Linked DNA regions of Homo sapiens. The protein of the gene in region 1 interacts with the protein of each later gene in a pairwise test. Each region holds a gene or a part of one and is shown in the gene's direction. Other genes may lie near its edges.

Region 1 (7,023 bases):
CTAGTCATAGTTCTAGTTAAAAAAAAAAATGCAGATTTTATTTTTTAAAAGTACTTTCATGTATCTCATTGACATAAGCTGGTCACAGTTTGCTTTATGGCCCTTTCTCTTTAGCTGTATCAGTGACCATCTTTCTAGTAAGTTTACTTGCTACTCGGTACACATCCATTCAAATAACTGATTTTTTTGGTGTGGTTTTCTTCTACTTTTTCCTAGGCTAATATATGCCACGTGCCTTTAAGTAGACCTAATTATTTAGATGTTTAGAATTCTTCTCCCTCTGAAGGCTCCTGTTAGTATAATAAATAAATGTTTTAGTAGGAGTTATGCCCTGAAAGTCCCAAAAGAATCTCCGCTGTTTTTGTCAGAATTATATAATTCCCTTTTATCCCCTTAATATTTCACTAACAAATATGGGTCCCAAATCTTGGTAAAACAAATTCTTGTTTTAGCTTTATAACAGACTGGGAGAGCATGGATAATTTGAATTCTCAAATCAGAAATCATATTTGAAACTCTGTAAACATTGCTTTAAAAATTAAAGGTGATAATAAATAGGACAATTGATCCTTTTTCCTGCATTATTTCTTCTGCCACTCTTGGAAGTACTCAGGAGGAATAAGTGGTCAGAAGATAATTGAGAAGAAGCAGGATGTCTGTCTGTATCATTCACAGTAGTGACAGTTGGGAGGGTTCTGCCATGCAATTTAAAAAAGTCAGTTCACAAATTCTTTAGACTTTGGGACTGAAGGTTATAAAAACCTTCATGTGTTGACTGGTTTGCATGAACATCTCATGCTGGGACTAGCTAAAGACTAAAATTGGTGGCAGTCTTACTTGCCAAATAATTGTGGTCTTTGGAATGTTACCAATATGACATGAAACTGTAAAACTTGTTTGTAAAATAATATGCAGACTGGGTAGCATAATGATGTACGGAAGCCAGGGTTCATAATTTCTCAAATGCATCAAGCTATTTAGCTTAAAGAAGTGGTGTGTTCAAATTTTTTTTTTCTTAATTCATGAGATGACCTAGAGTGCCATCTCATGCATTTAGGCTGACTCTTAGTAGTAATAAATATTTGATGATTATCAAATTGAGCTTAATATTCTTTCAGGTTTATTTCAGTTTTCTATCTTGTAGATTAAATTTGCCTCTTATTCTATATAACTTTATAGGAAAGTCATACTTTTAGAGTTATAGGATCTTATAGCTGAAAGGGACCTTACAGGTTGTTTAAGCTTTAAATAATATGTGATTTAAGATGCTTTGAGGATCACTGGTTAAATGTTAGTAAAGAAAGATAAAGAATTTTCCCTGCTGGATGGCAGTACTCAAAAATTTCCCATTGGGAGGCTGAGGCGGGTGCATCGCTTGAGCTCAGGAGTTGGAGACCAGCCTGGGCAACATGGTGAAACCCCATCTCTACAAAAACTATTTAAAAATAAGCTGGGTGTGGTGGTGTGCGTCTGTCGTCCCAGCTACTTAGGGGGCTGAGGCAGAAGGATTGCTTGAACCTGGGAGGTCGAGGCTGCAGTGAGTCAAGATCACGCCTTGCACTCCATCCTGGGTGACAAAGTGAGACCCTATCTCAAAAAAATAAAGATTTTCTGTAGAGATTTCTATCAATAAAATTATGTGTGAGGCTGTCTTCTTCCTCAGTGTCCATAGTAAATACTGTTTTCATGTCTTTTGTGTTTTCTACACAAAGGACATGCAGGTCCTGCCATCTTTATCACAGATGATTATGCCTTTGCCCCAGAGTCATGCTAGCTGGCTCTTTTTTTTTCCTCCCTATTTGAGTCTTTATTTTCCTCTATCAGTGAGAAGAGTAGAGTAATTGAGTTAAGGTCCCTTTCAGCTCTAACATCCTATGATTCAGTTCAGATCATTTGATAAGAGTAGATATCAGATTTTATGGGATGATATGGAAAGAACAGAAAATTCCTTTAGTAATGCCTCCCTAATTCTATTTATTCAGTGCTTTTTTTTTTTGGTCTTTGGTCAGTAAACTGATAAATGAATAATTGCTTTTTACAAATGAGTTTGATTTTCTTGCTCCTATATTGAGTAAGGCTGGCTCTAATAGATCTTATTTTATTTCAGTTCCTGCTACCACATGAGCCCAAGTCGTCACTCTCCCATGCCTAGGTTATTCAACAGTTTTTGAGTTGAGTTGGTTTTCTTGCTTCAAGGATGCCCCCCTGCCCCCACAAATTTTAGATTTCAATGTGTTATCTCCTTGCCCAAGAATCTCCAGTACTTTCAGTGCCTATAACATAGTATCTAAATTCCACAGCTTAACTTTAAAGAACCTCCCCATAGTACATGTCAAAGCAGGATTCAAGGCTGCATGTCTTTACACTCCCTAATTTGAACTTAGGCTGGTCTTTTCACGGTGTCTTGAGTGATTATATTAGTTCACAACTTCAAACTTAGGCTGTTCTTCTTACCCTCCTGCCCCCAGCTCAGTATCACCATGAAGTTTGCTTTGCTTACCTATGTTGTACTATTTCAAGTCCTGCCTTCTCCAAAAGTTTCTCAAAAATGACTTTTGCCAACATATACCTCCCCTTCAGATTATTAAAGAAAATATTTGTAATCTACCCATAACTCTTACCGTTTCACTTATTTTGGCACCTAGTTATTGACTTGTTTTATGGTTTCTTAATTTGCTTTAATTTTCCAACAAGTAATAGATTGTAAGCTCTTAGAGGGCAGGGGCTATGTTCTGTACTTTTTAAGAAGCCTATAGGTGCTGAGCACAGTTCTTGGCACATCATGGGTGCTCAGTAAAATACTTGTTGAATGAATGAAACAAATACACAGGTATTCTTTCCTGCAGTATAAGCCCATAAGTCAGTCAGTGTTAAATGTGACTGTTTCCAGTGGTTACTTGTGACTTTACGTTGTTACTACTTATTCTTGTTTTTAGTGTCTGCCTCTTTACTCTTACTTTTTCATTTGACAAAAATGGAAGATAAATAAGATGAAATAAATAATTTTTGTTTGGAGAATAAAACTAAAATATTTCCATTTGCAGTCGACCCTCTGTATCCAGAGATTCAAGCAACTGCGATGGAAAATAGTCTTTAAAAAAGCAACAACAAAAAAATACAAATTTTTAAAAATAAAGTATAATAACTTTTATAGCATTTACATTGTGTAAGGTATTATAAGTAATGTAGAGGTAATGTAGAGGAAAAAATAACAAAGTAGGATATAGGCCTTGCAGAGAAATTTAGTGTATTGGTACCTTAGACTTACCTGACTGATTTGACAAATTTATTTGTTGCTGTTCCTTCTGAATTACCCTTCCTTTTGAGTAGCTACAGGATCCATGCCATTGAATTGGGCATTAGCCAGTGACAAAAAAGAGATAGAATTTTTGTTTTTTAGGTCATCTGCTCATAATTCTTGAATCTGGGTAACTTCTGGGTACATGTGGATGACTCAAGCAAGTACTTTTAAAAAATATCTTAACTCAGACCTAATGTCTGTAAATTCTTGACTCAATGTGGTTAGATTTTTGACAAATGTTAATAGTGAGACTACAAATACGTTTATTTTCATTATCTTTAGATAGCAGTTCATTTAAATATGAGCTCATCTATTCACAAACTTAGTGTGGAAAGATCTAAGGAGGACCACATCAGTTGAGAAGAATGACCGGCATCCCCTGCTCCCCTTTTGAAATTCACAAGGCATAATATTTACTAAAGTGATGAGAAGTCTTGCAGAAGCCTTTTACAATTTTTACTTAGTATTTCTGTCTTATTTGACCATCTCCCCCATAAATCTCCCACATAAAGCATTTGTTTTGCTTTGTGTAGCACATTGTATGAAATTAGCATTTTGTGAGAAATGCTGAATTAGGGCCCTTTATTCTTTTAGTTTGCTCTTTAGGAGAAAAAGGCAACATCAAAATAAGTTAGTGTTAACACACATATGCATAAACGAAACAGCTTGTGTAGTGCAATGAATGTATTCATTAGATAGTGGATCAAAAGAGGAAACAAGTCAATAGATTAACCTTTGATTTTTAAATTAGGCTTGTTGAATATCATGATAAGACTAATAGTAGTATTAATAGATAGTAAAGATTTGAGGCTAGGCACGGTGGCTCATGCCTGTAATCTCAGCACTTTGGGAGCCCGAGGTGGATGGATCACTTCAGGTCAGAAGTTTGAGACCAGCCTAACCAACATGGTGAAACCCCATCTCTACTAAAAATACAAAAATTAGCGGGACATGGTGGCGCACACCTGTCATCTCAGCTACTTGGGAGGCTGAGGCAGGAGAATTGCTTGAACCTGGGAGGTGGAGGTCTCAGTGAGCTGAGATCGCGCTATTGCACTCCAGCCTAGGCAACAATAGCAAAACTGTCTCAAAAAAAAAAAAAAAGATTTGGTACATATGCTACACCATAGCAGTGTACTAGGGATTTTGGGGTTTGTTTGTTTGTTTGTTTTGAGACAGAGTGTCTGTCACCCAGGCTGGAGTGCAATGGTGCAATCTCCACTTACTGCAACCTCATCCTCCCAGGTTCTCCAAGTAGCTGGAATCACAGGTGCGTGCCACATGCCTAGGTAATTTTTGTATTTTTAGTAGAGTCAGGGTATCGCCATGTTGGCCAGGCTGGTCTCGAACTCCAAGGCGCAAGTGATTCTCCTGCCTTGGCCTCCTAAAGTGCTGGGATCACAGGCATGAGCCGCCTTGCCCAACCTGTTTTTAACCTAGAGAAATAGGTCCATGTTGTGAAGGTTTATAAGTAGGAATTAATAGATGACATTCCAAGTAGAAATTATCAGTCTCATTCTTATTTTTTTCCTTACCTTTATTTTTCTTTTATTCAGTACACATTTAAGTATCTTGGGTGTGGTACCTAGTGTACAGGTGATGTATGCCCTGCTCTCAAGGAGGTCATTCCTGAGATGCCATTTTGAACTCATTTTTGTCTTCTAACTGCTGATTTGGTTGTTATGGTATTTCCGTACATTTGGAAATCTAGTGGCTATGAATATTTTATACAGGTTGAGTATCTGTAATCTGGAAACCAGAAATGCTCCAAAATCTAAAACTTTGAGTGCCAACATGACACTCGAAATAAATGCTCATTGGAATGTTTCAGATTTTTGAATTAGGGATGCTCAACCAGTAGGTAAAAAGGCAAATATCTGCAAATCTGAAAAAATCCCAGTCTGGTGTCAAGCATTCTGTATAAAGGCCTCTCAACCTGTATTTGCCTTCTTTCGCTGTCTGGTCAAGTACTTGTACATTATGTATCACTTATTTTAAGCAAGTTAGTTGTACTTAGCAGTTATTAGAGATGTGATTGTTGGAAGTGAATGTTCAGTGTTGCAAAGTGAAAATAGCACTCAGGCAAAAGTTTTCTCAGCAAGGCAGTTTACTTCTGTAGAAGGGTGTGTCTTGCAGATGGAGCAATCGTGAGATGGACAAGGGAGGGGAAGAGGTTCTTATTCTTAACACAGCTGGTCCCCACTGTTGTGTCTTTCCCCTACTGGCTAGGGTTGGACCGCACAATCTAAAGTGACCCAGTTGACTAATGTTTGAAATTGAACCCAGCTGTCTAGGCTGGAAGGGAAAGGCTATCCATTATGACACAATGCATGTCTAGGAGAAGGAAGAGTTTATCTGAATAAGGTGGAGGAGAGCTGAGGAAGGTTTTGGTGAGAGCTGTTTTTATAAGTCTTTGCACTAAACTATGAGTACAGGGTATGATACAGCATCCTGTAAGAATGAGCACACCTATAATGGCTGTAAGAGAAGGATTGAGGCTATGATTCCTTTTCATTTACTGAACTACCTCTCTAGCCATGTTGAGAAAGGGTTATCGACTCCAGAATTTTTAGTTAGTTCATTGGATAAAGCGGTAAGTCTTTGTAAGACGCTTATTATGTTCCCAGTGGGGTCAGTGTTGTTTGGGATAAAGGTACAACAGTGAATTTTAATCATAACACAAACATCCCCTATTTTGGCTAATATATCTAGGGCCATTCTGTTTTCTCAGGCCATCTGGCTAGTGGGCCCCAATTGTTCTGTTACCCTTTGACAGCATCCGTGGTGTAATTATAAACCACTGCTGATTATAATAAATGTAATTTATCCAATCTACGTTTTTATTAGTTGTCACTCACAAAAATATTGACTCAAATCCTGCAGCTATTTGATCTCGAGTTTTAAATTTAAGAGCATTCACATCTTGATATCCTGTCTCAGTTGCCAAAGTTTGTTTTAGGTCTTTAACTTCTACAATAGCTACCTTGGTCTTTTCATTAGATGGAGGAGGAGCAATAGTTTTGTTGTGAGAGGTTTTGGAAGAAGGCTTAGGGGAAAGTGTAGGCAGTAGGGGATCAATGCAGCATATTTCAAAGGATCCAATAGGTTCTGTTCCTGAAACCTCAGCCCCCATGCCATAAAACTGGCTTAAAGAAGGGAACCGGCTTATAGAAGGGGAAGAACTTGGAGGGTTTGAGATAATAACCTGTATTGGACAGTACTGGTTTAGCTCACAGCTAGGGGAAGCTGTTTCTTTAGTAAAGTGAATGTATGGCTTTAGGAAATTACAGCTACTGGTTGGGGCAGTTTATCCGTGCTCTTTAGTGGTCTACAGAACGTTTACAACTACTGGTTGGGGCAGTCCATCTGTGCTCTTTATTGGTCTACAGAACATTGGACCAACTGCAGCATAAAAGCTCTGTCTTGGCGGGGTGTGGGGGGCAATACTCCCAGTTGACATTGGGGTCTTTATTGAAACCTTTCCAGACTAAATGATCCCGATTCACTAATATCCAGTCTGAGCAGAGCCAGGAAGGACAGAGGTACTTTTTTGGAGTGGAGAGCTGCTTCGACGTGTCAAGTCTCCACAGGGTATAACAAGGCAAGCATCAAATATAATAGTTTGAGGCGAAATTGACTCGGTTACATTAATAATGAGGTGATCAGCAATAGAGAGGAAAGAAGAAGGAGTAATAGAATAGATGAAAGAGAGTTAAATTTTC
Region 2 (6,869 bases), on another chromosome or scaffold:
GTTTCCATGACTGTTAATATTTAATATCTAACTATAAAGGCTATATTTCAGTATTTGATGTACTTATCATTTTGATGTTAAAAAGGAAAGCACCACTCTCAATATAGTAGAAACTTAACTATGAATTTTTCTTGTAAGCCATGTTAGAATATAAGCTTATTGAGGGTAGAGATACCCTTGAATCTGCTGTAGTGAACTAGCCCTCAATAAATACTAGATTTTCATTGGAGTTACTGTGTAATACTTATGTATGCCTTCTGAACTAAGACCCTAAGCTCTGCACTGCCAATTCTGGTTTACCCAACAGGCAGATGAAGCATATGCTTCAGGGCACCAGCAAAACCAGAATGTTAAAAAAAAAAAAAAAACCTTTGCCAAATAATTTAATATCTCAGCAAAACCACTGAAGTAGCCATCATGGGAAAAAAATCAGAACTTTGTTGGACTTTTTTACTGTTATTTTGGGGTTCTGTTATTTTTCTTTTTATTTCTATATAAGGAAGAGGTGGTAGAACATCAAAATCTTTTCAGTGCTTAGGGCCTCCAAAAATCTTAATACAACTCTGTGTACATCTTAAATTATCATAAGTTTTCCTTAGTTGTTCAGCAATAAGCATTTTATTTCATGAAAATTATAGTACGTTTACCCGTACTTTATGTAATCATACAATTTAAGATTCTTCCTCTTTACAATTTATCTCTAAGCAAGAAACCATAATAAATGCTAGAAGGCAATCCTCATAAATTGGACTAATACCAGTTCTCTTTTATCAGCCAACAGTGCTAATATGTCCTCACACCCTCTGGCTGTATGAAAAGATTACACAGTTCCCAGAATAATCAAAAGTAAATTATTATTTATTTCTTACTGGTATAAATGGAATCTTAAATGTTTCTATTTGAAACGTCTACATATATGTAAGAAAAAGAGAGTTAATTTCTTGTTTTGTAGTTCTCATTTGATTCACAATTCAAGTTTAGTTACCTAAGAAAAGAACTCTAGTTTTTTTCTCAACAATTACATTAAAGAAAACACTGCCAGATTCTTCCCAGTTTCAACTTTCCCTCTACCTACCAATCTCTTGCTGGATGATTACCCAGATATTTCTGGTGTGTTTTGTTGCTAATACTCCCAGTGTACTTCAAGAAGGGTACAGATACTGCTTGAGGATCCGCTTGCCAAAGGCCGGTTCTAATTAGACTTGTCATTTTTTGCTTGGTTTCATTTTGACCACTGGGTGCATCATGCAACCGTGTTGGATATTTTTAAGAGTATAAAAATACAGAAAGCAATAGTTAATTAATCTCACATAGCTAAAAGAGGAAGTTAAAAGTACTGGAAATTGGTGTCGGATGATTAAATAAAGGATTAGGAGAGAGACCATTCTAGACACCCTCCCCAACCCCACATCCCCAAAATCCAAGCCACTTCTAAGTAGTGAGAGAACTTCGGCAACCAAGAAATGGCTTTGTTAGAAAACACTTCACACGACTTATTTTAAATTTTGCTTTAAATTTAATTGCTTTTCTCCTTTTTCTCTAATAATAGGACTATTTCGCAGTTTCCAGTCCTTGATTAATTAAGGCTTCAGAGTTCGTTCTTACATATGCCATGTCTTAAGTTTTCATAAAATTCAGTCTACACAAGACTTGCTTTTTGTGAGCACTGTGCTTAGTGGCAGTCCGGATTTTTCCCTCCACCCCCGCGGCCACCCCTGCCCACCGCGCCGTCGGGCATGGATCTGGCAGGTGCGAGGCCGAGGCCAGGGCTCAGCGAAGGACGCCGAGTTTACAGAGCGCGCGCGCCTAGAGGAGGCAGCAGCAGCCGCAGCCTGGCCGCCCGAACTTTGCGAGCCTGGCGGGGGAGCACAGAGGCGGGCCGACCTGCCCCGCTAGCGCTGAGGAACGACTCCCTTTATGCCAGCTCGCTGTCCGCCTTCCCGCAGCGTACGCTGCGGAGCCTCAAAGACCCTGCGGCCCTCCACAACCGTCTTAAATAACAAACCCCTGTCCTCGCCCCCGTAGGAATTGGGGCAGCTGGGGGTTCGCGTCACAGACTCAAGCCCGCCAGCAGAAGGGCAGGCCGGACTTCGCGGGGCCGAACCCCGCTCCAGCTGGGGACAGGCCGCCTAGCCGGCAGGAGGGAGCCGGCGCGAGAGACTTGACGGGAGGAGGTGGAGAGCGGGAGGCGGGAATGAGGGCGCGGGACCGGGCGGGCGGAGCGTGCGAGACTGCGAGCGCGAGCGCCAGCAGGGCGGAGGGCGGGGCGTGGGCGGCGCCCGGCCTTCCCGCTCCCGCGGCGCTGCAACTCTGCCGAGCCTCCTTAAAACTCTGCCGTTAAAATGGGGGCGGGTTTTTCAACTCAAAAAGCGCTCAATTTTTTTCTTTTCAAAAAAAGCTGATGAGGTCGGAAAAAAGGGAGAAGAAACCGGCACCCTCTCTGAGAGGCAACAGAAGCAGCAATTGTTTCAGCGAAAAAAGCAGCAAGGGAGGGAGTGAAGGAAAAAAGCAAAAAAGGGGGCGACACGCAAGTGCCTGTAGGGGTGAAAGGAGCAGGGACCGGCGATCTAGGGGGGGATCAGCTACAAAAGAAACTGTCACTGGGAGCGGTGCGGCCAAGGAGGAAGCAGTGCTGCCAGGCTCTGCTCCAGGGCACAGCTGGCTGGCGGCTGCCCTGTCCGCAGCAAAGGGGCACAGGCCGGGGACCGCGAGAGGTGGCAAAGTGGCACCGGGCGCCGAGGCTGCTGAGCGCTCGCCGAGACGGCGACCGGACTGGCTGCCCCGGAACTGCGGCGACTCTCCCTACTCAGAACTTGGCCTACGTTTCCCAGGACTCTCCCCATCTCCAGAGGCCCCCACAAAACCGGGAAAGGAAGGAAAGGACAGCGGCGGCAGCAGCTCAATGAGTGCCTACAGCAGAAAGCCTGAACGAGCTCGGTCGTAGGCGGGAAGTTCCCGGGGGGGCTGCCCAGTGCAGCCGCAATGCTGCCGCGAGCTGCCCCAGCAGTCCGGGCTCCGTAGACGCTTTCCGCATCACTCTCCTTCCTCGGGCTGCCGGGAGTCCCGGGACCTGGCGGGGCCGGCATGACGGGCTTCTCGGGGGCCCGCCGCACGCCCGGCAGCCTCCGGAGACGCGCGCCGAGCCCGGCTCCCACGGCCTCTGAGGCTCGGCGGGGCTGCGGCTGCCTGGCGGGCGGGCTCCGGAGCTTTCCTGAGCGGCATTAGCCCACGGCTTGGCCCGGACGCGACCAAAGGCTCTTCTGGAGAAGCCCAGAGCACTGGGCAATCGTTACGACCTGTAACTTGAGGGCCACCGAACTGCTACTCCCGTTCGCCTTTGGCGATCATCTTTTAACCCTCCGGAGCACGTCAGCATCCAGCCACCGCGGCGCTCTCCCAGCAGCGGAGGACCCAGGACTATCCCTTCGGCGAGACGGATGGAAACCGAGCCCCCTGGAGGACCTGCCCCTGCAGTTCTGCCTCACACGGCTCAAGTCACCACCGTGAACAAGGGTGGGTGAATGCCTTTTCTTCCCCCTGAATGTCTTTCCTTCCGCGGTATTTTCTGCCCCGATCTATAGTCCCTTGAGTCTCCACACACACTCCTCACAGAGATCTGTAGCGTAGGTACGTGACAGCTCTGCCTACATCTGACGTCCGGAGTCATTAACCAGGAATGTATGTGTGTCTGTGTGTCTCTCTGTGGAGTCGTCAGAATTCTTCATAGGGGTTAAGCTAAAAAAGCGAGGCGAGGAGCCCCTCTCCAATGGCTCAGTTTTGCTGAATAATCACGTGTGAATCGAGGGGCGGGCTTTTGGCAGGCAGATCTTACTAGTATTTACTACCAAGCTCTACTCCAGATTAACCATCCCAGTCCTTCTGTCAGTCTCCGATGCCATCATGCAGCCTGGTTAGGAGCAAAGGAAAGGGGAAAAAGAAAAACGACTAATTCATCTTTTCCTGATCGTCAGGACCCTAAAGAATGGCCGAGCCTTGGGGGAACGAGTTGGCGTCCGCAGCTGCCAGGGGGGACCTAGAGCAACTTACTAGTTTGTTGCAAAATAATGTAAACGTCAATGCACAAAATGGATTTGGAAGGACTGCGCTGCAGGTTGGTATTAAGAGAGGTGGGGAAAACAAGTCAATAATGTTGCCTACGTGACCCGGGTTTCTAGATTTACAGCTTTTAAGCTTTCAGGGACATAAAATTTCACTGTTTTTAAACCTAGTTGGTTGCCATATTTTATATCTTTAAGTGGATGCAACTTCTCAAAATGACGTACTTTGAACAAACTCCTCAAATCCAATAACATCCTTGATATCAAGTGGGGTCCAGATTTGGTCTTAGTTTTTGGAATGTTTTTGTGACGGTGGGGATTTTAAAGTAGTCAGTGTAGGGCCGAGGTTTGTTTGTTTTGTTTTGTTTTTAAAGACAGCTCTGTAAACACATTATTATGATTATTATTTGAAGTAAATACACTGCTATTAGTGGTTTTACGTACTTTGCCCCCAATAATAGACTTTAACGTTAATTTTCTTGACTACTGATGAGGGTGTTTTTCCTTCAAATGCTTCAAGTTTTGACAAACGACCTTTCCTCGTTTGGAATGGGTGGCCTGGGCACCGGGACAGGATGTACATTTTACAGTTAATGTAATACCATCCACTCATTCAGGAGTCGGGAGGAATAAAAAGTTGAATTTTCTAATCAGAGCTCAGCTGCAGTGTCTTTGTCTCTACGGTCATGCCGTGGTGTGCTCTAATTTTCAGTAATTAGATTTACAGGCAACAATTGACACATGTCCAGCTGCCAAGTATTGTACCTGATAATTTTTTTCCTCTTCTGAATGTTATCATGTAACTTAGGTGAAAGGCTTAGAAACAGAAAAATGACAAAATAGTTTAAAATAGTTGCTTTATCAGAGTTCTGATGATATTCTTATGAGCTATTCTTATTTGGAAATGCAACACTTGAAGCTGTTTTTGAAAACCCAGTGGGGAGAGGGTTTTTAGAGGGCTTTGTTTCGGTTACAAGAATTAAAAATTTAAGTGCCAAGAGATATACTATTAACAAACAAAGTCCATACAGTCTGTACATTTTCAGTCAGAATACACTGGCCTTGCAAAAATTTCAGTATTAAGGAAGTTTATGCACAGATACTAAATTATTTATCTTGTTATTGCTGCTACATTAAGTAATGATTTTTTTTCCTTTTTCTACCTAGTAGTTTTGAACAGGTTTAGTGATGATAGCAAAGTAACAAATTTAATATATTGAAAAGTTTCCTTTTGAAAACTCAAAAGATTATATAAACTTCACAAAGAATGAACTACTTAACCCATGTTCATGATAAGATTTTACAGGATTTTTGACGAACAGGAAGACTGGGAAATTAATAATATTCTTTTAAAAAGTTTTGACAAACATTTTTAATACAACTTTGCAATCTTGTTTATATTAAACATACTTATCAAGATACTAACACCCACTTATTGTGGCTTAGTCCTTGTACATATAACGAAACACACACACAGAAACTGGAGTTTCAAGGCTTATTTTCAATATGTATAATCCTGACTCTGAAGTTGTGTCATAAGTCAAGAAATAACTTTCTTCAAAACCGTTTCCAATATTGCTATTATTTTCTGTGAAAAAAGGTGAATTTTCTTCTACAATTATGTTTATTTAACTCAATTTCAAAAGCCTTTTCCACCTTCCTAGTGTACATTTTTCTATCAGGTTAATATCAAAGGCCTTAATCGTATGTTTGCTTTACGAAGATCCAAGGTATCTGTCTCTTATTTTTCTCATTCCAGGTCCTTAAATATGACTAAATCTTTAGGGACAGTTGTGGTCGTATCAATTTTTAATAACCAAAAAGTATGTTTCATTGAAGTTCTTGAAATATAAATTATGTATCACTGTTTACCACTGCTCCAAAGGAAGAGCTAAAAATCAACAGTTTTATCAACAGGGGAGCTTAATATCTTGTCCATCTATGTAGTTTGCATTTACAAAATATTACTCATTTTAAATATATTTTGTTATTTAATGTGTGATTAGATTTTTTTAAACAAACATTTAAAAAAGATAGAACGACTTTGTATTTTCCATTAGCATTTAATTTCATAAACATTGAGTGTCTATTATACAAGATATTTATTATAAATTTAGATTATTATGGATATACCTAGATATAAATAAACCAGTGTAAATTCTGAAAATGTGTGGCATGTTAATGAAAGTAATATTTTTTCACAACTAAATTATATGTATTTTATATTTGCATGCTGTTCTACAAGATACTTTATAAGAGACCACTGTTAGAGTGAAATATATTCAAACAATAGTAGATAATCTTTGTTATGTGAATTATTTGTATGTTGATAGCAAGTGTTAATACCACATTCTGACTTTTAAAATGTTGGCAGTTTACAAATAGCTGTTCCTTAAATGCTTGATAATAACTGAAAAAGGAACTAACACAGGATCACCAGTTGATTATTAAATGAGCTCAAACCACAAGACAAGGCTGTCCGTGTCCCAAAACACCCATTAAATATCTTATTTTTTCTTCTTTTGCTCATTTGAAAATCAGGAGGCTTGTCAGAACTTTGAGAAACAGTATATAATGTAATAGGGTGACTATTTCATTATTTTCAAGAACAGTTGTCCTACAATAATTTCCTACTGTGATACAAGGCATATCAGGAACTTAGTTTTATATAAATTGATATCATAAGCAATTTAGAACACTGTGGCTTATTTAACACCTTAATAATCAGTACTGTTTTGTAACTTAAAATGAAGGATTCTAAACATTGAATACACCTAGTAGCCAATATTAAATAACTTGCAAATAAAAAAT
Region 3 (8,019 bases), on another chromosome or scaffold:
CAAAAGAAGTCAGACAAAAAATAGCACACACTCTATGACACCACTTATATGAGGTTTAAGAGCAGGCAAACCCAAGCTATTGTGATAGAGGTTAGAAGTGTGGTTTCCTTGGGGGGCTATCTACTTTGAGGGGCCTCAGGGAAGCCTACTGGTGTGCTGGAAAAGTTCTAAATCTTCATCAGGGTGGGGGATACATGGATGTATATATAAGTAAAACAAATTAATTGAGATATCCACTGAAGGTTTGTGTTCCTTATCATATATAAGGTAGATCTTAAAAAGAACAAAAAAAAAGTATTTTAAAGAACCAAGTAAAAAAAAATAAGGTTCATGCATCATATTTAAGAGTCAGGAAACAGCAGACCATTCTAATTTCACTAAAAAATGGTCTTCAGAATGGATTTTTCTCATTTGCAAAATTGGAATATTAATATATACCAATCTCATAGAACTATTAAGAGTTAGATAATGCATACCTATGCTTGAGCTGTAAAAGAAGCCCCATATAAAATATAAGGTAATATTATTTGTGGAACATTCCAACTCTCATTTTCACTTATGAAATATCTTATAAATACTGCCTCCTTTCTCTTAAATTACAATCACCAAAACCAATGAAGTAAACGGGTGTAGAAACTGCATTAGGCCAGCAACACTTGGGAAACGGCAGCTAAAAGGAGGGCATCTATTCCTTCCATGACCGTCTGATGGGTGATTGTCCTAATGTTGAAAAGTGGATATTTATACATATTAAATCTTCCTGAAGGATTCCCAGAATCTATTTAATGACAGGATATTCAATTCCAGAAAATCCAATCAAAGATTATAAAAAGCCTGAAGCCCAATAATTCCATTCTGCTCATCTTCTTTCTGAGGTGTATTAATAAAACAGTTAAACAGTAATCAAGTTGTAGACATACTACATCTACGTACATAGCATGGTTCAAATCATACATTCCTTCTAAATCTGAGCTGCCCAGTATGGTCACCTGTAACTACATGTGACTATGGACAATTTGAAATTTGGCTAGTTTGAATTGATTTGTAATCTAAGGGTAAGATGCATACCAATTTCAAAACTTTGTATAACAAAAAGCATATAAACTATCTCAATAATAATATTCTCATATTATGTGTCAAAATGATAATATTTTAATGTATTCAGTTAAATAAGATAAATTATTAAAATGAATTTCATCTGTTTATTTTTACTTTTTTCAGTGTGGCTAATAGGACATTTTAAATTACATACATAGCTTGCATTGTATTTCTATTCGACAGCAGAGCTCTAAATAAAGATGAAACTTTTCATAATGCTATTCCTCTCAGGACAGTTTTCAGGAAGAGCATTTCAAGTATTAGCGGTAAGGTTACTTCAGGTTTTCTGGCCAAATTATCTGGCTTTGTCAAAGATTGAAACCAACATGTAATCTTTATAATCAAGTGGGTTTAAGCATGGCCATATAATAAAATGTTTGCCCTGCGTGATGTCATTGAATATTTGACCAATTATCTCTGATCTCCAGTAACACATAAACCTGTGGTTCTGGAACTTTAGGGGGCCTTTAAGAATGAGGCAAAGAGTGCTAGCTTCGGCAGCACATATACTAAAATTGGAAAGAATGGGGTAAAGAAATGACTTCAGTAGATCCCCTAGAAAACTTTCCAGGACCCCTCAATACAGACATTATATTTGAGTGAAAACAAGATGGCTACAGACTGATTTGTGTCCCCCACAAACTCATATGTTGAATCCCTGACTCCTAACGTGACTGTATCTGGAGATTGAACCTTTAATAGAAGGTAATTAAGGTTAAAAGAGATCATAAAGGCGGAGCCCTAATTTGATAAGATTGGTGGCCTTACAAGAAGAGGGAGAGAAAGACAGCTCTCTTCCTATGCCATGTAAGTGTAGTGGTGTGCAAGCTAAGAAAAGGGCCCTCGCCAGAAACTGACCCTGCCAGACCTAGATCTGAAACTTGCAGCCTTTAGAATGGTAAGAAAATAAGCTGCTGTTAAGTCACCCAGTATGTGGTATTTGTTAAGATAGCCCGAACAGGCTAATACAGTAGTCCCCCTTTATCCATGATTTCAGTTACCTGCAGTCACCTATGGCCTGCAAATATTGAATGGAAACTTCCAGAAATAAACAATGCATCAATTTAAAATTGTGCCCCATTTTGAGTGGCATGATGAAATCTTTAGCCAACCTGCTCCTTCCGGCCCAGAATAGGAATCATTCTTTAGCCTAGCGTATTCACATTGTCTGCACTATCTGCTCGTTAGTCACTTGTTGGCTTGGTTATTAGAAAACATAAAACAATAAAAAACACGGTATATATGGGGTTTGATGGTAACATAGTATATACGGGGTTCGGTACTATCCTCAGGTTCAGACATCCACTGAAGGTCTTGGACATACTCCCCAAGGATAAGGATCAGCTACTATATGGATACCTGCTACTTAAAGCAATCTCACTTTATGTTTTATTTTATATTTTAATTTTTTGGTAGAGACCGGGTCTCAGGATGTTATCCAGGTTGGTCTTGAATTTCTGGCCTTAAGCAATCCTTCTGTATCCCAAAATGTTGGGATTACAGGTGTGAGCCACTACACCTGGCCCCAAGCAACCTCATTTTAATTAAACATTATTATTAATTTTAATACTAAATGTGATATATACATTTTTGTTAGATAAGAGCATAGTGATTTGCACAAAATGCAGAGTAAACAGACATTTATTTTCTCTAAAAGCTAATAAGACAAGCGTAGCCTGTGTCCTCTGCAGGCCAACTCACTCATAGACCAACTTTGGAAAGCCAGGTTAAAAAGGGTCAAGGAGAAATGACTACTATTTAAAAATATTCTTACTCAAATATTTTATTCTTAACTATATCAAAAATATTCTCTTCAGTAAATGGAATTTGCATTCCCACTTGAACTGAAAATGCTAAGTTGTTAATACCTTCTCCAGGGATTTACTTCTTGGGATGACACCTTCACTGGGTTCGTCATAGTTTAAGCATAATAAAATCTCATTATATGCTCCAAAGCATGAACGATCCGGGAAGTTCCTCAGTCAGTGTAGAACTTAGCCTTACGGCTTTGAGAATAACATTTTAAAAGGCATTACATAAAGAAAGAATGGATCCCAGCCTGGGGAACAAAATTGCATGCTTTGTTTCTTTAAAAACATCCAAAACAGCCGGACGTGGTGGTTCACGCCTGTAATCCCAGCACTTTGGGAGGCCTAGGCGGGCTGATCACTTGAGGTCAGGAGTTTGAAACCAGCCTGGCCAACATGGCGAAACCCCATCTCTACTAAAATACAAAAAATTAGCTGGGCGTGGTGGCCCATGCCTGTAATCCTAGCTACTTGGGAGGCTGAGGCAGGAAAATCGCTTGAACCCGGGAGGTGGAGGTTGCAGTAAGCTGAGATCGCACCACTGCACTCCATCCTGGGCGACAGAATGAGACTCTGTCTCAAAAAATAAAAAATAAAAAAAAATCCAAAACATCTTCAGATTTTAATGCCTGATTTTAAAGAAAGGGGTGGCAGGGAAGGAAGAAACCCAAATAGGGTAGTTGCTTTAATCACTGTTACCACTAATTTTCTGAGAGCAGCAAAGCGCGTCTAAGAACTCCAATAAATCTATACTAAATTTTATATGTCCCATACATATTTTCTGGGAAAAAGGGCCCTTGAGCTTTGAACACAATCTCAAAGGAAACAGTGACTAAAAAAGGTTAAGAACCTCTTGTTGAAGGGTTTGCTTTATTGAACGGAAGAAACAGTTCTCCCTCTCCCCTCCACGCTAGGTATAACCAGCCTTCCGGATGTGCCGCCTTTGGTATCACCCAAGATCTCGGGATGGGTACCCATCCCTGCCTCCACTGCCTGGTTTGCTGGTTACCCTGCTCTTTGGTTCTGTTTCTCCATGTGTGTTTCTGCAAGCTGCCTCAATGTCCCCCTTCCTCGGCAGTTGTCCTACTCTGTGTCCCTGAAATAAGAGCGGTTCCTCAGCGGCTGCCTCATTTGGGTGAGACCCACGTGACACTCATCACATTTGTCAACCTCCCCTTTTTCCTCTCTACTCTTTTGGGGCCACTGGCCTTTGTCCCGTGCCGGAGAGGTAGCCCCCCCATCCCCCGACTCTTTACCCTCTTCCTGGTTGGGTTTGGCAGATACTTTCACGCATGTCCCGTCATGTTCCTGTCCTACCATTCCCAGGTAGTGTGAAATTCTTTTCCTGGCCCACTCGAAAGATGTGAGAAAGAAATGGTGCCTGAAGTGCGCTCTCTGATCCCCCGAAAAGAATATTACACATAACTACTAAGCGCTTTGTGTTTGGGTCCATGATTCCGACATATGACGTGGAGAAGCATAGTGCCCTGCACCTGCCTTGACCATGGCCTCCTGAGAGTCCCCAGGGCCACCAAGCCCCCCATTCCAAGTGCTCTCCTTGAATGTGACTCGGCTCTTTCCACAATCCGCCCAGCCTGGGTTAGGGAATGGGAGCTCTCTACTATATTCTTCTCCACAATATTCTAAAACCTCCTCTCTGTCCTTCTAGAGAGAGCGCAAATGGGTAAGTTTTTTCCCCCTAAAACTTGCTTAAAATCAGCGCGTCGGGCCCCGGGGCGCCCGGGATGTGAGGGCGGGGAGGTGGTTGTCGGGGCGGTCCGCGCCCCCACGGCGAGGTGCACGGAGTTAGCTCGGCCCAGCAAGCGGCGGAGGGAGGCCAGCGAGCGGGGTCTGCGAGCGGAGGCCCGGGCGGCGGCGTCGTCCCCGGGGGCAGGCAGGCCGGCCGGGCCCGGGCCAGGGCGCTGCGCCGCGGCCTCCGCGCCTCCTCGGGGCGCCGCGCGGCCAGGCCGGCGGCGGCCCCCGGGGATGGCGGCGGCCGGGCTCCGCCAGCAGGTGGCCCTGGGGTCCCAGCGGCACCGCCCCCTCCGCCGGCGCCCCTCCTCCCGCGGGGGCGGTCAGCGCCCCGGCCGGCTCTGCACCCGCCGCCGCCCTCCCCGCAGCCCGCCCGCCGCGTCTTCGGGGCCGCCGCCGCCGCCGCCGCGACCGCAGGCTGAGCCCAGGCGGGCCGGCCGCCCCGAGCCGCCCCCCGCCTCCGCCGCCGCCGCCGCGCCCCGGCCCGGCCCGCTCCCAACGGAAAGTTGGGCTGCGGCGGGCGGCGTCTGGAACCCGCGGGCCGGCATGAGCGGGGGCCGCGGGGGCGCCTAGGGCACCGGGAGGCGGCGCCGCGCGGGGGCAACTTCGCCCGGGAGCCCACGCCGCCGGGCCCCGCGCCTGCAGCCCCGAGCCGGCTCGCGGTGGTTCCTCCCGTCCCGCGGCCTCCCCTCGCCGACTCCAGGCGCGGACCTTGGTCCCGGCGGCTCCGCCGCGGTGACACGAGCCCGCGCCGCCGCTGCCGCTGCCGCCGCTGCCGCTGCCGCCGCTGCCGCCGCCTCCTCAGCCCCCGCCGCCGCCTTCCCCGCACCATGGAGTTCTCCGAGAGGAAAAGAAGCAGGAAATCCCAGAGCTTCAAACTGGTGAGCCGAGGTAAGCGGCCGCCGGGGCGGCGGGGGCAGGCAGCGGGCGCCGCGCCCTCGGCCGCCCGCGGGGGTCCACGCTGGGGGGCGCGCCCTCCCGGAGCCCCCGGTCCTTCCCGGTCCCCCGGTGCCTCCGCCGGGCTGGCAGGCAGGGCCGCGGCCGCACACGCCGGGCGGCGGGGAAAGTTGTGCGGGGGGAGCAGGGATGTTATTTAACGTAAACAAGTCGGAGGGCAGCTCAGGAAATTAGCAAACAATGACACCGGGGGGCCCGAGCCCTCCTCGGGGCGCCTCCGGGGCAGGGCTGGGGCGGCCGCGGACCTGCCTGGCCATCAGGCCGAGCGTGGACCCTCGGACCTGAGATTTGCTGTTTTTGTTTTCTGGGGTCTTCCCCCTTCCCCCCGCCAAGAGAAGGAGGAAAAAGGATGACCGTTGTTGTTCTTTTTAAGAAGGAGAAAGAAGCTCACGCCGTGTCCAAGCCCAAGGCGGAATTGTTGACATCCAACATCTCTAGCTAGCTGATTTGGGTTGGAAAGGTGTTTTAGACTAGATCATATAGCAGTCAGATAAGCATCCTTTAAAAAAAAGAAAAAAGAAAAGAAAGAAAAGAAATCCATCTAGTTTCTGACGAATTAACAGGTGTACACCACACTCTAGGGTTTGTATTTTGTCAGGGAGGGGAAAGTGGAATACAGTCTTGTCTGTGTTCAGTTACTTGTTAAGAGTCTTTATCTTCCTGATTTGACTTTTTTTTTTAAAAAAATGATAACTCAAGAGCCATCGTGAAAATATATCTCAAAATGCATTGTCATCTTTAATTAGGGGCAGGTGACTTTTTTCATTGTAATGTCACAAGTCCTCATATTGAGTTTAGACCCGCTCTGTTTAAATGTCGTCTTTTAATCAAGTTGAGGTCAAAGCCAAACCCCAACCTGTCCACTTTTCCTCTGTCGTTTTCTCTAGCATTGGCATCAGGGTAGAAACTCCAACAACCTGCAGAAGTCACGTGTAAACTGATGAAAATTAGTGAAAAAATCGTGGACAATTGCAAGTAATCGAATTTTTCAAACTGAGCTAAGCTAGCTAAGATGTGGATTTGGTTCATCTGAAAATGCTTTGATTATAGGCATTTTGAAGATCCATTCTTATCTGCCTCCCCTAATTTAGTTTGGATACTGTTTAATGAAAGAGGCCTGAAATAGTTTCACGCATTCAAAATACTTGGCTCTTCCCACTTTCTGAGTAAATTTTTTTTTCCACATCCGTGTTGATTACTCAGTTACTTGGACTTTTAAAAGTCTCTGTCTGGGTGATTGCCCTGTTGGTGCTATCTGATTCATTCAGGAATGTAAGCTGCTTTCTTATTGATGACCTCAGAGAACTTAACTGCTTTATCTTAAAAGTGAGAGTAGTTTTGTTGACTTTGTCCTGTGAGGTCTAAGGCCAGAGAAAGGGGACTAGGTGTTAAGGAGGAACCTCTATTTTCATGCCTTAGTGACCCTGCTTTTCAAAAATAGAAGCAAAAATGCAGTAGCCTCCATAGAGAAGCTTGTAAAATACTGTATTTGAAACTTTGACTGACGTAGCAAGTTTTTCCTTTTTCCTTTTTTCTTTTTCTTTTAATTATAGGTCTGATTCTTCTCTTTCTCTGCAGGTGCAGTTTTAGAAAATAAACTTGCATATTAAATAAAGTGCAGTAGCTGAATGCGAAAGAGTCACTTGTGTGAAAGATGAAAATCTTGCTTTCTTATCCAAATCATACTACATTTGAAATAACAAATCAGTATTTTTCATGTGTGCTTGCCTTTAAGCTGCTTAAAGGCTGAGATTTTCTGGGTAAACTGAGAAAACTAGAGTGCTGGCTAAACTTTAAAGCATACTGTTGATATGCTGGTGAAAATGGGTTGTGAAGAGAAATTTGGAAACCTCCCCTGCTCTATGATTGGGCAAACATACTTGCCACCTCAAAGAAAAAAAGCCTAAAAATTGGCATCTGTGGGTACAATTTACCGTGAACATGGTGTGATCAAGCAAAGCTGTCTTCTAAAGCCAAAGTAATCTTTCAAGTTTGCGTACTCCAGAATAAGCAAAGTTTTAGGAATTATTATTGACTACAAATTCTGTGATTATTTCAGTTCTCAAAAAGTTTATTTATAAATTATAGAGTATACAAACTAAATAGAATGAGATTCTAGACTTGACTGCTTATTCCTATCTTGAGGTCCTTAGGATTCTAATTTTTGGTTGTTTTCTCATGCCAGATTATCACCACGAGGTGTATAAGATCCCAGAATTCAGCAACGATGTTAATGGGGAGGCCAAAGAGACACAGCCCATTTTTTTAGGTAGGTTCCTATGTCAATTAATACCTCAGCAAAACATCGTGACCATTTGCAATTAGGGGGAAAAAAGGAAATTGTTCAGGAACGGGAAATGTCTGCCATTGCTTAATGTATGACATTCTTTTCAAGACCTTTTAT
Region 4 (7,508 bases), on another chromosome or scaffold:
TCGAGACCAGCCTGGGCAACATGGCAAAGCCCCATCCCTACAAAAAAAAAACAACAAAAAAAGACAAGCATGGTAGTGCATGCCTGTAGTCCCAGCTACTTGGGAGGCTGAGGTGGGAGGACTGCTTGAGCCTGGGAGGTCAGGGCTGCAGTGAGCCGTGATTGTGCCACTGCACTCCAGCCTGGGTGACAGATCAAGATACTGTATCAAAAAAAAAATAACCCCACAACTTTGGCTGAGTAGTAATCTACAAGTGCATGAAGAAACTACCCAATGCCGTGGAAAGAACCACCTAAAAGGAATAACAGAGCAATAACCAGTTCATGTTGCCTCCAGCCAAAGTGGAAAGACATAAGACATTGAGCAGCAACGTCCACAGAAAAAAACTGCCTTAGCAGTAACTCAAATAAGTCCTAGCAGAAAGGTTGATCTGAACCTATCCTAACAAAGCAAAAAAAAAAAGCACACCTTGAAACAGTCAAACTGACTCCAAGTAACTTAACTGCCTCCCACAACAAAGTCCAAAATATTTTTAAAAATACAACGAAATCCCGGGTCCAACAACATAAAATTCTTAATCTAACATCCGACCAAAATTTACCCAGGAAGTAAAGAAAATATAGAAAATATAACCCATAACTAGAAGACAAATCAATCAATAGAAACAGACCCAGAAATGACATCAATGTTAAAACTAGCAAGAAAAAAAAGTTTAAATAACCATTATAAATATACTCCATACATTTACGCAGACAGAAGACAACATGAACATGATGAAGAGAGAAGTGGAAGAAACAAAATATGAGTTATTCAGAATAACTAGTTACTCTAGTTATTTTTTTCTGACTAGGATTGAGTATCTCAACTATTCCAAACTATTTAGAATAACTACTTAGAATAGATAGTTTAGATACTCAATCCTAGTCAGAAATAAAATCTAGTCAGGCACAGGAGTCCATCTGTGTATGGTTCCCCTTAGGTGAGTAAGGCATAGCACCCCTTAAGAGTAAATCAATCTCCAGTCTTTAGCAAATGATAGTGATCGATACTAATGGGATTTCCCAAGTAAAATTGTAAACTGCAACAAATGTTTGTGAAAGATTACCAAATACTGCCATCTCTTGTACTAAACCACAGGCACTGTACTAGACTGAATTTTTGTCTTTAAGAGATCATCTCGGCCGGGCTCAGTGGCTCATGCCTGTAATCCCAGCACTTTGGGAGGCCGAGGCGGGTGATCACAAGGTCAGGAGATTGAGACCATCCTGGCTAACACGGTGAAACCCTGTCTCTACTAAAAATACAAAAAATTAGCTGGGCATGGTGGCAGGCGGCTGTAGTCCCAGCTACTCGGGAGGCTGAGGCAGGAGAATGGCGTGAACCTGGGAGGCGCGGTTTGCAGTGAGCAGAGATCGTGCCACTGCACTCCAGCCTGGGCAACAGAGCGAGAGTCTGTCTCAAAAAAAAAAAATCATCTCATATTTTAAAACTTTTTCTCTCACACAATTATCACCTCCACATAAATTACTGAGGGACAGGTCCCACTCCACCATACCAACATCTGGATAAAGCATGAAGTTCTCCTCCTAGAATTGACAAAAGTTCCAGATGCAGGAAAAACAATTGCCTTACCCATCAAAGCCGCATCCTCCAAAGACTCTTTTGTACCATCTTTGCTGAGGGACCTCTGGGCAGGGTGCAGAGTCACGCACTCCTCTTGAGAAAAATACACAGCCAGATCCTCAAAGAGTATTGGTCCCTGAAACACAAGAGCCTGTGTCAGCACAAGAGGGTGGAGGGTCAGCCCCTCACTTAACCTAGGAAGGATGAAAAGAGCTAGAAACATCAGATGCACGGGATAAAAGGCTCGGTGTAAAAGGTTCTTGAGCGCAGAAGTAGGGCAAATGGGTTCTAAGGGGTGGGGTGAGGGTTGGGAAGAAGAGAGTAAACATGGACATACATTTTTAGGCAGTGGTACAAGGACGGTGGACTGTGAGAATTATTGTCTATCTTGAAAGAGAAAAGATGAGGGAATGGCTCTTAGGGAGGCAACCATTAAGTGAGGATGCTCTAAGAAAAGGAGAGGTTTGGGGCCGGGTGTGGTGGCTCATGCCTGTAATCCCAACACTTTGGGAGTCTGAGGGGGATGCAGATGACTTGAGGTCAGGTGTTCGAGACCAGCCTGGCCAATATGGTGAAACCCTGTCTCTACTAAAATTACAAAAATTAAGGCTGGGCACAGTGGCTCACGCCTGTAACCCCAGCACTTTGGAAGGTGGAGGCGAGTGGATCACCTGAGGTCAGGAGTTCAAGACCAGCCTGACCAACATGGTGAAATTCTGTCTGCACTAAATACAAAAAATTAGCCAGGTGTGGTGGCGCATGCCTATAATCCCAGCTACTTGGGAGGCTGAGGCAGGAGAATCATTTGAACCTAGGAGAAAGAGGTTGCAGTAAGCCGAGATTGCACCATTGCACTCCAGCCTGGGCAACAAGAGTAAAACTCCGTCTCAAGCAGAGCTTGCAGTGAGCTGAGATCGTGCCACTGCACTCCAGCCTGGGCAACAGAGCGACACTCCATCTCAAAAACAAAAACAAAAACAAAACAACAACAAAAAAAACTCTGTCTCAAAAAATAAATTAAAATAAAATGAAATTAGCCAGATGTGGTGGCATGCGCCTGTAGTCCCAGCTACTTGGGAGGCTGGGCCAGGAGAATCGTTTGAATCCAGGAGGCAGAGATTGCAGTGAGCCGAGATCGCGCCATTGCACTCCAGCCTAGGCGTCGCAGCGAGACTGTCTCAAAAAAAAAAAAAAAAAGAAAAGAAAAGGAGAAAGTTGGGCAGCCCAGGAAGAATCATAAAGAGATAAAGGTTACAGGATTCTCCCAACATCCTTCCCTTTGCTATTTCCTCTCGTCCCCATGACACTCATTGCTAAGCTCACTCCAGCACTTCATCCAGGCCTACCCCACCTTCTCTAACGGTGTGATAAATTAATCACTTGGGATTTATTATTACTCAACGAGTGTGGAGTCTAGAAATGTGCTTAATTTAAAAATTCATTCAAATTGGAGAAGTACCAAATCTGTAATTTTGGGAACCATTCCAGAAAGTCACTTTTAATCCTAGCACTTTGGGGAGCCGAGGTGGGAGGATAGCTGAAGGCCAGGAGTTCCTTGGCAAAGCAGCAAGACTCCATCTCCATAAAGAAGTTTTAGGCCGGGCGCAGTGGCTCACACCTGTAATTCCAGCACTTTGGGAGACCGAGGCGGGCGGATCACAAGGTCAGGAGATTGAGACCATCCTGGCTAACACGGTGAAACCCCGTCTCTACTAAAAATACAAAAAATTAGCAGGGCGTGGCGGCAGGCGCCTGTAGTCCCATCTACTCGGGAGGCTGAGGCAGGAGAATGGCATGAACCCGGGAGGCGGAGCTTGCAGTGAGCCGAGATCGCGCCACTGCACTCCAGCCTGGGCGACAGAGCGAGACTCTGTATCAAAAAAAAAAAAAAAAGAACTTTTAAAAGTAGCCAGACACTGTGGTATGCGCGCCTCTCAGATACTCGAGAGGCTGAGGCGTAAGGATTCCCTGAGTTCCAGACGGAGCTATGATATCAGCACTGCACTCCAGCCAGACAAGCAACACTCCAGCGACAAGGCCAGACCCTATCTCCAAACAAAACAAAACAAACAGATAAGACATTGAGAAACTCTCTCAGAGATTCCTCCACAGGTCCCTGCTCCCAGTTGGTAGTTCTGAAAGAAGGAAGTTGGTAAACCATTATGTGTGTGGTCTTGGAACGAAGAACACTTGGTCAAAGGGCTATTTGGGGCTCAGGAGCACTCCTACCACAACAGGCATGCCCAACTCTCCTCCAAAGGAGGGGGTCAGGCAGAGACCGAAAGCAGCAATAAACTTGGACGAAAAAGGTACCTCGACTCACCTGGGCCTCGGGCGTCGGGGGCATGGACGCCATTTGGCGGGTGGGGAATGCCTTCTTCAAGACGCCACAGGGACTTCGTGACAAAGCTGCGGGGGGAGAGAACAGTTCTTAAAGGGACCAATTCCGCTGCCAAGTTCCTCCACTACCCCTAGCCTCCCTCGATTCCCTCCGAACCCCCCCTTAAAAACCTACGCCGACTGCTCCTCCTCTTGGCCCGGCCTCGAAAGGGGCCCACTTACCGCTCCGCGGTTAATAACAGGCCTCGCGCTCCCTGACAGGAGCTGCAGAAAGCGACGCCCGACCGAGACGCGACGAAGAACGCCACGGCCACTGCAAAACTCCCACGCTCTCATGCTCCTTTACGCAGGAGCTGCGGGAAAAGCCGCCGGAAGCGACCCGCCCTCAGCCCTCTCCGCCATCCTGCCCTTTGATTGGTCGAAGTTCTCCCGAAGGGGAAGTCCTTCTTTTGTGTTGACCAATTGAACACCTTAACCGAGGACCTGTAGCCACTGGGCAGCTGCGAGAGGTAGTTTTCCTCCTTTTCTCTAAGCAACCATTTCCGCTTCCGCTGGCGGGGTCTCCTCCGTGAGCTCCGGGCCTGTTTGCCTGCTGAAGTAGAGTCTTAGGGTGACCCCAGGGGGACGTAATGTTTCCGAGAAGAAGGACAGAAAGAAGACTGGGAGACACCGGAACTCGAAAGAAAATCGGTAACAAAATGTGGGTTCGGCCAACAGTGCCCTGTAGGCCTGAAATTTCGGTCTGGCCAGAGCAAGGTGATTGAGAGGGCGGGGGTTCGGGCCTAGCCTGGGCTTGAGCTGTCCTTTGTGTCTTGAGCGGATGGTGGGGCCGTGGAACATGAAGGAGTATCTTTGTGTACGTTCACAACGTTCACATCGGTGTAGGCCAGGTTGCTGGACTCTGACTCAAAGTGTTATAGAGGCATTACGTATTGTACCCGCAGCTGCAGCCTAAGCGAGCTGCTTCAGCTTCCTAGTCACAGGATCCCACGCGAGAATAGAGCCATAGGTTAGCGTCGCAGGACGTTGTTCGCCCCCGGATACCTCACATGCAGCCTACCCTAGAGCCAGTCATTTCCTATTGTGTGCTGGGGGAGGAGGGAGTGCCCTGGTGTAGGCATTTGGAATTGGAAAATTGAGCTCCTCCCCAAGCTCTGCCACTGATTGGTTGGTAATCTTGGCCAGTTTACAACTTTGCTTTCCTCAGCTGCAAACAGCTCAGAGTGCCTCTCTGGGCTAACTCAGAGGGTAATTTCAAAGATTATAAGATAATGTAAGTGAAAGAAATTGCCAGTTTATAAAGGTGTTTGGGGAAAAAAAAAGACGAAAATGATAGGTACCTTGATAGAAAAGCCTGAAAAGTCTCAACATATTTCCTTATTCCAGTGCCAGGCACATTCCTGTATCTAAAAGCTTAATGAATGGCTGCATGGTTATTAAAACAATATTAGGAGATTTGACAACTTAGGTAATGTGATTTTGTGGAATATCTGATAGGATAGTTTCAGCTACAAGTAACAGAAAACCCACCGAAAGGATGTTCAAAGAGCAGTTACAGGTTGGTTAATTCGGTGGCCCAGTGACAACATCAAGGTCCCAGTGCTTCTCTGCCACCCTAAGCATGTTGGTAACGTTGACAATAGAATCCAGGTAAAATATACAGACATGTATTGTGTCATGTACCCATCCTAAACTAGTTATTACCAAGAATAAATAATTGTTTGGGGCCCATCATGCTTCAGCCCCTGTCACTAGGGGAAGGACCTAGCCTCCCTTGATAATCTACCTGCACAAAATTAGGGCTTTGTTACAAATGAAAAAAAGAGATGTGGAAAATAAGTTAGATAAGAAACTAGCAGTATCTGCCACAAATGATATCTCTTGACAGCTAACTAAGAGCTAGACCTTGTGGGGATGGATCACAAAAGAGGTAGCTGTGAAGTCCCAGTAAAGGTGCTTCCAGGACAGGTGGAAGAATGGTAAGAACAAACTTGCCTACAGGCTAGACCAGTCCAAAGCATATATGTTGAAGAAGAGCTAATAGCCTGTATATGAAGGTGTAAGTAAAGGAGATGTTCATGGTTGAGTCACTGTGGTGTTCACGTAGTCATCTTTCCCTTCTTGGTTTGTGCTTATCTCTTTTTTTTTTTTTTTTTTGAGACAGTCTCACTCTGTAGCCAGACTGGGGTGCAGTGGCACAATCCTGACTCACTGCAACCTCTGCCTCCGGGGTTCAAATGATTCTCCTGCCTAAGCCTCCTGAGTAGCTGGGACTACAGGTGCCCGCCACCACGTCCGGCTAATTTTTTTTTTTTGTATTTTTAGTAGAGATGGGGTTTCATCATGTTGGCCAGGATGGTCTCGATCTCGTGACCTCATGATCCACCTCGGCTTCCCAAAGTGCTGGGATTACAAGCGTGAGCCACCGCGCCCCGCCTATTTAATGCTATTCTTACATCAGCACTGTCTCATTGTGGTCTGAGATTCTCCTTATCTGGATTTGTGGCTCTTTCACCAAGAACAAGAGACTCCCGTGGCTCTCTTCTTTAAATCCTGTTGCCATAATTACAAAGAAATAAACACAGTTTCCAATGCTTTGAAATGAAGCATGTGGTATTAACTCAGTGGATTACCAGAGAGAGAGGGATATACCTGAAATGGGAGAGGAAAAAATCTTCCCTAGACTATCTTTCCTAAGAGCCATCAAAACTATAAACAAGTGGACAAAGAAGGAGGAAGCTTGAAAGCTTTATCTTCCTGAAAATAAAGAGATGACATACAAAGTCCAAGATAGACCAAGATTGAAAAATTAGACCACATTATATCCCTAACTCAATTTTGTAAAAAATCACAAATGCTTGACTGTATACCCACTATATGTTCAAGTAACATGTTTTAATCATCAAAATTTAAAAATCCTTCCACGACAATCTTTTGCAAGTTTTTCCATTTCTGTCTTTAACATGGTACCAGTAATAACAACTACAACCTGTTTGTATTGAAATTATTTCTATAGCCCAGCATCTGCTTTCTCTGAAAATTATCTTTTTAAAAATAGTAAAACTAACATCATTACAAAAGTAGTATATGTGCATTTCAGAAAGTTAGGAAAGGCTGGGTGCGGTGGCTCACGCCTGTAATCCCAGCATTTTGTGAGGCTGAGGTGGGCAGATCACAAGGTCAGGAGATCGAGACCATCCTGGCTAACACGATGAAACCCCATCTATACTAAAAATACAAAAAATTAGCCAGGCGTGGTAGCGGGCACCTGTAGTCCCAGCTACTCGGGAGGCTGAGGCAGGAGAATGGCGTGAACCTGGGAGGCGGAGCTTGCAGTGAGCCGAGATCACACCACTGCACTCCAGCCTGGGTGACAGAGTGAGACTCTGTCTGAAAAAAAAAAAAAAAAGAAAATACAGGGGAAAAAATGGCAACACATTCCTGTCACCCAGAGATCACCACTATTTACTCTTTATTATTTGTTTTTTTTTTTTTGAGACAGTCTCACTGTTGCCCAGGCTGGAGAGCAGTGGTGCGATCTCTGC

Evidence for each region.
Region 2: the proteins of PRPF40A (region 1) and CDKN2C interact in binary tests that used the Homo sapiens proteins (3 or more experiments, as listed by UniProt).
Region 3: the proteins of PRPF40A (region 1) and BEND7 interact in binary tests that used the Homo sapiens proteins (3 or more experiments, as listed by UniProt).
Region 4: the proteins of PRPF40A (region 1) and NAA60 interact in binary tests that used the Homo sapiens proteins (3 or more experiments, as listed by UniProt).

The regions. Positions count from the first base shown.
Region 1 is NC_000002.12:152,707,452-152,714,474, reverse strand, and holds part of PRPF40A (pre-mRNA-processing factor 40 homolog A), read left to right. Parts: intron 1-2,107; exon of another isoform or gene 2,108-2,171; intron 2,172-7,023.
Region 2 is NC_000001.11:50,966,387-50,973,255, forward strand, and holds the start of CDKN2C (cyclin-dependent kinase 4 inhibitor C), read left to right. Parts: upstream 1-3,858; 5' UTR 3,859-3,982; coding exon 3,983-4,111; intron 4,112-6,869. UniProt on the Homo sapiens protein: Interacts strongly with CDK6, weakly with CDK4. Inhibits cell growth and proliferation with a correlated dependence on endogenous retinoblastoma protein RB.
Region 3 is NC_000010.11:13,526,003-13,534,021, reverse strand, and holds the start of BEND7 (BEN domain-containing protein 7), read left to right. Parts: upstream 1-5,007; 5' UTR 5,008-5,488; coding exon 5,489-5,549; intron 5,550-5,839; exon of another isoform or gene 5,840-6,197; intron 6,198-6,218; exon of another isoform or gene 6,219-6,590; intron 6,591-7,800; coding exon 7,801-7,884; intron 7,885-8,019.
Region 4 is NC_000016.10:3,439,175-3,446,682, forward strand, and holds the start of NAA60 (N-alpha-acetyltransferase 60), read left to right. Parts: upstream 1-4,505; 5' UTR 4,506-4,592; coding exon of another isoform or gene 4,593-4,653; 5' UTR 4,654-4,663; intron 4,664-7,508. Other genes in the region: ZNF597 (zinc finger protein 597), read right to left, coding at 1,633-1,759, 3,947-3,979. UniProt on the Homo sapiens protein: N-alpha-acetyltransferase that specifically mediates the acetylation of N-terminal residues of the transmembrane proteins, with a strong preference for N-termini facing the cytosol.